Homo sapiens: one gene and its partner. Each later gene encodes a partner of the first gene's protein in a complex. Each region holds a gene or a part of one and is shown in the gene's direction. Other genes may lie near its edges.

Region 1 (3,500 bases):
TTTGAAAATAAGGTTTACAGTCAGGTGTGGTGGCTTACGCCTGTAATTCCAGCATTTTGGGAGGCTGAGGCGCTTGAGCCCAGGAGTTTGAGACCAGCCTGGCCAACATGGTGAAACCCCGTCTCTACTAAAATACAAAAATTAGCTGGGTGTGGTGGTACATGCCTGTAATCCCAGCTACTCAGGAGGCTGAGGCAGGAGAATTGCTTGAACCCGGGAGGTAGACGTTGCAGTGAGCTGAGATCGAGCCACTGCTCTCCAGCCTGGGTGACACAGCGAGACTCCATCTCAAAAAAAAAAAAAAAAAAAAAAAAGGTTTTACAGTGTGTTTTTCTTTAATTATATAGGTAATTCATGAATACATTCTCATTCAAACCATGTTGATAGAAAGGTTTCCTTTGTTCTCATTCCATTCACTCTTCTTCCCCAGTTAACCTCTGTAACTCATGATGTCCTAGTGAAAAGAACATGGGCTGCATCATAATACAATTAGAGGAGGTCACAGCTGGTTGAACAGTGGGACACAAAGATTTTTGATTAATGGGTCACCAGCAGAGCTCTTGTGACATGTCCTAGGCATCTGTGTTTGGTCTTGTCCTTTTCAACTTAAAATATATTTAAATAGAGACAAGGTTTCACTATGTTGCTCAGGCTGGTGTTGAACTCCTGGGCTCAAGCAATCTGCCTGCCTTGGCCTCCCAAAATGCTGAGATTACATAGGGGAACCATTGTGCCCCGTCATTCAGCCTATTAGTGACTTGGGTAAAGATAGAGAACAGAGGTTTATCTAATTTGCACATGACATAAAACTAATGTATTGGATAACAGAATCTAAATTCAAAGTGATCCCAACATACATGAATTTGGGACTAAAAACCCAGTAATAGGCCAGGCGTGGTGGCTCACACATGTAATCCCAGCACTTTGGGAGGCTGAAGCGGGCAGATCACTTGAGGTCAGGAGTTCGAGACCAGCCTGGCCAACGTGGTGTGAAACCGTCTCTACTAAAAATACAAAAAATTAGTTGGGTGTGCTGGTGCGCGCCTGTAATCCCAGCTACTCGGGAGGCTGAGGCAGGATTTTTTTGTTGGGAGTGAGGGCAGGTGGAATTGGTAAGTAACAGAGTTTCTTTTTAGGGTGATGAAAATGATCTAAAATTGATCGTGGTGATGGTTGCACAATTCTGTGAATATACTAAAAACTATTATGCACTTAAAATGGATAGATTGTATGGAATGTGAATTATATCTCTATAAAGCTATTAACAAAAAAATTTTTAAAATAAAGAATAATGGGCTAAACACTTAGTGGCTCACACCTATAACCCCAGCACTTTGGAAGGTCAAGGCAGGAGGATCACTTGAACCGAGGAGTTTGAGACCAGCTTGGGCAATGTAGTGAGACCCCATTTCTACAAAAAATTTAAAAATTAGCCAAGCATGGTGGTACATGCCAGTAGTCACAGCTACTCAGGAGACTGAGGCAGGAGGATGGCTTGAGCCCAGGAATTTGAGGTAGTGGTGAGCTATGGTCATGCCACTGCACTCTAGCGTGGGCAACAGAGTGAGACCCTATGAAGGTTTTTACCTCAGTACAAACAGTTGAGTCACTCATACTCTTTAGTTCTTACTCCTCAGTGTCATTGCTGTGAGAGCTCTGCTGTTATTTAATTAATTTGTTAATTCCCATTTATCTCATTCCCATACCTGCCACCACAGTTCTTTGTAATTTATGTATGTTTCTTTTTCTATGAGTTGCATAGTGTGTGTGTATTTTAAGTAAATGGTATCATTGTCTGCATTGTTCTGTTTCTTTTCCCACTCAGCATCATGATGAGTGGTGCATTTTAGGGTTTCTCCCTGTTGCTGTGTGTACATCTAGTCTGTGGGAACTGACTGCTACTCGGTTTGCCCTGGTGACATTCCTCTCTTAGTGATAGACACCAAGGTTACCTGTCACCAGCCTTCCCTCGCCGTAATTAATAATCCAGTGTACATTCTCATATGTGTCCCTTTATGCAATGTGGAAAAATTTCTTTGGGTTATATTCCCAAGAGCAGAGTTGCTGGTTGTAGGATATTATATCTCTATCTACATATGCTTATTGTATTTATACTTAGTTAATATGTTTATACTAAGTACTGTCAGATTGCCCTTTAAAATGGCTGTACTGGTCTACCCTCTTTCCAGCAGAATGAGGGTTATAGCCTCCTAGTCCACAAGATGCATAGATTTATTATTATTGTTATTTTTTGAGATGGAGTTTCGCTCTTGTTGCCCAGGCTGGAGTGCAATGGCATGATCTCGGCTCACTGTAACCTCCACCTCCCGGGTTCAAGCGATTCTCCTGCCTCAGCCTCCCGAGTAGCTGGGATTACAGGCATGTGCGTCCACGCCCGGCTAGTTTTGTATTTTTAGTAGAGATGGGGTTTCTCCGTGTTGGTCAGACTGGTCTCGAACTCCCAACCTTAGGTGATCTGCCCGCCTCAGCCTCTCAAAGTGCTGGGATTACAGGTGTGAGCCACCGCACCTGGACAGATTTTTTTTTTTAATTATATTGAGGTATATAACAGTAGAGATGCATAGATTTTGGTAATGGGGACAGGAAAGAAAGATGTCCCTTCTAAGGCTGGGTGCGTTGGCTCATGCCTGTAATCCCAGCACTTTGGGAGGCTGAGGTGGGCAGATGACCTGAGGTCAAGAGTTCGAGACCAGTCTGGCCAACGTGATGAAACCCTGTCTCTATTAAAAATACAAAAATACAAAAATACAAAAATTAGCTGGGCGTGGTGGCATGCGCCTGGGTGGCATGCCCAGAGGCTAAGGCAGGAGAATCTCTTGAACCCAGGAGGCAGAGGTTGCAGTGAGCTGAGATCGCGCCACTGCACTCCAGCCCCGGCAAACAAGAGTGAAACTCCATCTCAAAAAAATAAAAAAATTAAAAATTAGAAAAAGCAATGATAAAAGAATATTTGTTTAGTTTTATTTGTTTAGACTTGTTGAGCTACTGTAGACTCGGATAGAGATAATTACAGGCAGTCAGAAATTATTATATAAAATCCTGCAGTTAGATTCATAATATATTCAGCAGTATGGGGCAGGAGAAAACTGGCTTGATAGCTATTTGGAGCCACCACCAGTAGGATATATGTGGCTGCCAAAAGAGCTAATGTAATCTTAGGCCACTTTAGTAGAAGTAGAGTGTAAGATGGTAGGAGGTAGCCGGTCTCACCACTGGAGGGTTTTGTGTTCTTAAGGAAGAGGTTGGCATGCTGGAATTTGTGTGAAGGAAAACAAGCACCCAGCAGTCCCTCTACCCACCTGCCTACATCTGTACTCATATACGATGCCTTCCCTTCCGTTCTTACGAATGATTTGTTCATGTTTCTGTCTACTAGAAACTAATCCCATCCCTTCTCACCACTCAAGACCTTTGGCAATTCTGCCCTCTCTCTCCTGTGCCATCAGTTTTCCCTGTCTACAGGATCATCCCCATCAGCA
Region 2 (3,500 bases), on another chromosome or scaffold:
TAGGGGTCATAAAAATTAACTAGTTTCATAGTATGCAAATTATTATGAGAATTTAGTGCTTCAAGTTGGTAATTCAACAGACTTCTTTTAAATGATATATCATTTTTTGAAAGAAAAGGTGTTTCTAAAATACTATTTTCAGTCAATAGAAGAGTAAGATTCTTACTTATAAAACTTTAGTTTGTATTAAACTTTTCAGGAATACATCTTTTGCTAACCATATTATATCATTGCTAGGTTTTATGTAAATTTGTTAACTTGTTATTTAGGAATACTGTTTATTTCCCCCCTCATGATTATATTGTACATTCTTTGCAGAGCATGAAGGGCAAAAGCAAAAGTAGTCATGACTTGCTTAAGGATGATCCACATCTCAGTTCTGTTCCAGTTGTAGAAAGGTTAGTCCATTGTTGGTATGATCCTAAGTTCTTAATTTTCTGGCTCAGATAATTTTCTTGCTTCTTCTGTGAGTAAACAGTCAGTCCTCATAAGTCAAAAATTTTTAAGCCAGCCAAAAAAATAAAGCATTTTGATAACAGAGATAGAGAACTTCAAGCTTGATAGAGAGAAACAAACGCTCTAGTCACTTTCGCACTTGCTCTCTACCTCTGTTGAATGAATTACATTTAAAATTGTTTTACCATTACATGTTAGGACTAGAAACTGTTTGCTTTAACAGTGTAATGCTTAATTCAAGGTTGTTTTGCTACCTTTTCCTTGAAGCATTTTTGCCTTAATTGTATCATGAATGAACAAATTACAGTTAAAGGTTTTTGTGAAGAAGTTACCAGTTTGGGGGCCAGTCCACTGACTATAAATTCTCACATACTTTGAGGAGTTAACAGAAAGTTGTCTTGCTACCTTTGTTGCTTCTCTTTGAGAAGGGAAAACGTCTTGGTGTTAGATGTAATAGCACAAGATAAACTGGGCCAGTATCTCAAGGGGCACTACAATGCTGTTGTACTCAGTTTAGCTCATTTTCGAAACTCCTGTTTTAAGACAATCTTTTCTTAATACCCTTCTATTTGAAGGATTTGGGGGTTTTTTTAGTCAGAATATTTCAAGCCAATAAAAGAAATTGTTTTTTGCAGACCATTGATCATAAAAATAACACTGTCGGTTGTTGTTTGCTTTTTTCCTTTCAAATTCTAGTGAACGCATATATTTGCTAATGAATCATACTTATTCCACTTATAAAAAATGACTCTAAAGAATGTTTCCATCTGTTCTATAATGCCTTTCTTAAATTCCTATGTTGAAATACATTTTTGGAATGTTATTCCCAGCAAACTATTCTAGATTTTTGGGTTACAAAATAATTGTGTTAGTTTTACCTTGAAACTAAAATTTGTTTTGCTTATTTTTTTTATAGTGAAAAAGGTGATGCACCAGATTTAGTTGATGTAAGTATTTATTTTGGTATTAATATAGTTTGAACAATTCATAGAAAGTACAAAATTTTTACAAAAACTTAATTTTGTTCTTAAAAAGTAACGTATATTACTTTTATAGTTATATATGTCAAATTTTGGAAAAATATGAAAAACAGAAATTATTTAGGTGTTAGACTATTTCCTTACTCTAGGGGTGTGCGTGTGTGTGTGTGTATATCTCTCTACAACATTAGAATCTTATATATGAATTTCTAGTCTGTTTTTTTCTCCCCCTCACATAACATTACGTTAATACTCAAACTTCAGATGTTATAAATTTATTGTATTAAAAGTTTAAATATTGGTGTGTGGGCATCCTACATGATATATGGGAAATGCTTGGATCAGTAATTTATAGTAGTGTCTCCTTTTTATATACACATTTCAAAAGATTCTCATTCAAGAGTGTAGTGATCTTTATTAGTTGTAGTGGCTAACAAAGCTAACAAAACAGAAGGAAGATTTTCCTTTAATACATAAGAGTCAAGTTTTTCAAATTATACATATGCCACTTTTTATATAAAAACCCATTAATCTGTGCATTGTATAATTTACTAGGAAGTACATAACTTTCCATGCATGAACACAGATTTATCTATTATCACAGTCAAAAGAGAAGGCTCTCTATGGCTATCAGTAGTAGATAGAGAGAGGATGAATATCTGACCTTGTCAAGAAAAGCTTCCTGGAAGAGATGATGCTATTTATGTCTTATATGAGAGTTAGGAGTTAGCTAAGTCAGAAAAGAAAGTGATGAAGGGGGTGAGGTCCCTCTAGCTCAGAGAATAGCATATGCTAAAGCATGGAAATAAGGAGAGATCATACCTTATTTAGGAAATACAAACGGAAATTTAAAGTTTCAAGGAGTCTGTCTTGTGAAGAGCAAGGAAGAAGAGTATTGAAGGTAAGGGGAACTGCATATACAAAATGGTCCGAAGCAGGAGAGTTTGGTGTGTTCTAAGAGCTGCAAGCAGGCCAGCGTGAACAGGGTGTGGTGACAGGCCAGAGCTTCATTACAGAGCTTCATAGGCCATGGTGAGGGGTTTGAGTTTTTTCCTAAAAGGAAGTGAGGAACAGTTGAAAGGTGTTTGTTAAAAAGAAGGATGCTATGATCAATTTTGCATTTCAGGAAGATCACTATTGGCGATATTATAGAGGACAAATTAGAGGAAACAGACTGATACTGGGAAGCTATTGTAGGAGGAGAGCTTGATATAAGACCACAGCTGTGAGATGGGAAAGAGGTAGATTTGAAAGAGGTCTAGGAGGTGACTGATTCTACACTATGAGGTGAGGGAGGAGTAGTCCAAGACAACCACAAGGTTTCTGGTTTGAGCAACTTGTTAGATGGGTGCAAAAGAAAGCATAGGGTTGAGGTGGAGAAAAGGATGAAAAATAATGAGCTTAATTTTATACATTTCAAGATTGAGGTAATTTGGAGACATCTGTGTAACATAATATGGGTCTAGAAGTTAGGATCAATGTATAGGATAGAAAGTAAAAGTATAGATTTGCTCTTAATATCATGGGTGAGTGACTAAAACTGTGAATCCTTTCCCAGGAAAATGTACTACATTCACAACCAAAATTATATGAATTTGCAGGGAATTTTTTTTAGATCTCCTGAGGCCTGAGCATGGAAGGCCTAGGTTGGTGGTTGTCACCTTTTAGTGCTTAAGAATTACTTAAACATCTTGTTGAAAACATTCGTAATTCCTACCCCAGAGATTTTGGTTCAATAAGTCTGCAATGAGGGCTAGAATTTTAGGTGTTAATAAACAACTATGTAATACCATCTAAGGACCAGACTTTGAGGACCAGTGCTTTAGGGGTCCACAAGTCTCAAATTAAGAATCCTGCTTCACTACGACTCACCAGATCAAAGAAAGAATCACAAAAGAAAAATGATCCACTTGGGGTTATTTCTTCCTTCTTCTCTCCCCTCTTTCTTCCCTTTGTTCCTCCATCTGTCAATGCTGGGCACTATTCTAGGAGTTGAAGATACAGCAGTAAGCAAAACAGGCCAGAATTTTAGCTCTCATGGAGTGTTTGCTGTAATTGGATGAC

The links. The genes of interacting proteins can lie anywhere in the genome.
Region 2: EFTUD2 (region 1) and CWC27 share a complex: the UniProt entries of both Homo sapiens proteins name them as parts of the minor spliceosome.

What each region holds. Positions count from the first base shown.
Region 1 is NC_000017.11:44,889,446-44,892,945, reverse strand, and holds part of EFTUD2 (116 kDa U5 small nuclear ribonucleoprotein component), read left to right. Parts: intron 1-3,500. UniProt on the Homo sapiens protein: Required for pre-mRNA splicing as component of the spliceosome, including pre-catalytic, catalytic and post-catalytic spliceosomal complexes. Component of the U5 snRNP and the U4/U6-U5 tri-snRNP complex, a building block of the spliceosome.
Region 2 is NC_000005.10:64,799,930-64,803,429, forward strand, and holds part of CWC27 (spliceosome-associated protein CWC27 homolog), read left to right. Parts: intron 1-318; coding exon 319-398; intron 399-1,372; coding exon 1,373-1,403; intron 1,404-3,500. UniProt on the Homo sapiens protein: As part of the spliceosome, plays a role in pre-mRNA splicing. Probable inactive PPIase with no peptidyl-prolyl cis-trans isomerase activity. As a component of the minor spliceosome, involved in the splicing of U12-type introns in pre-mRNAs.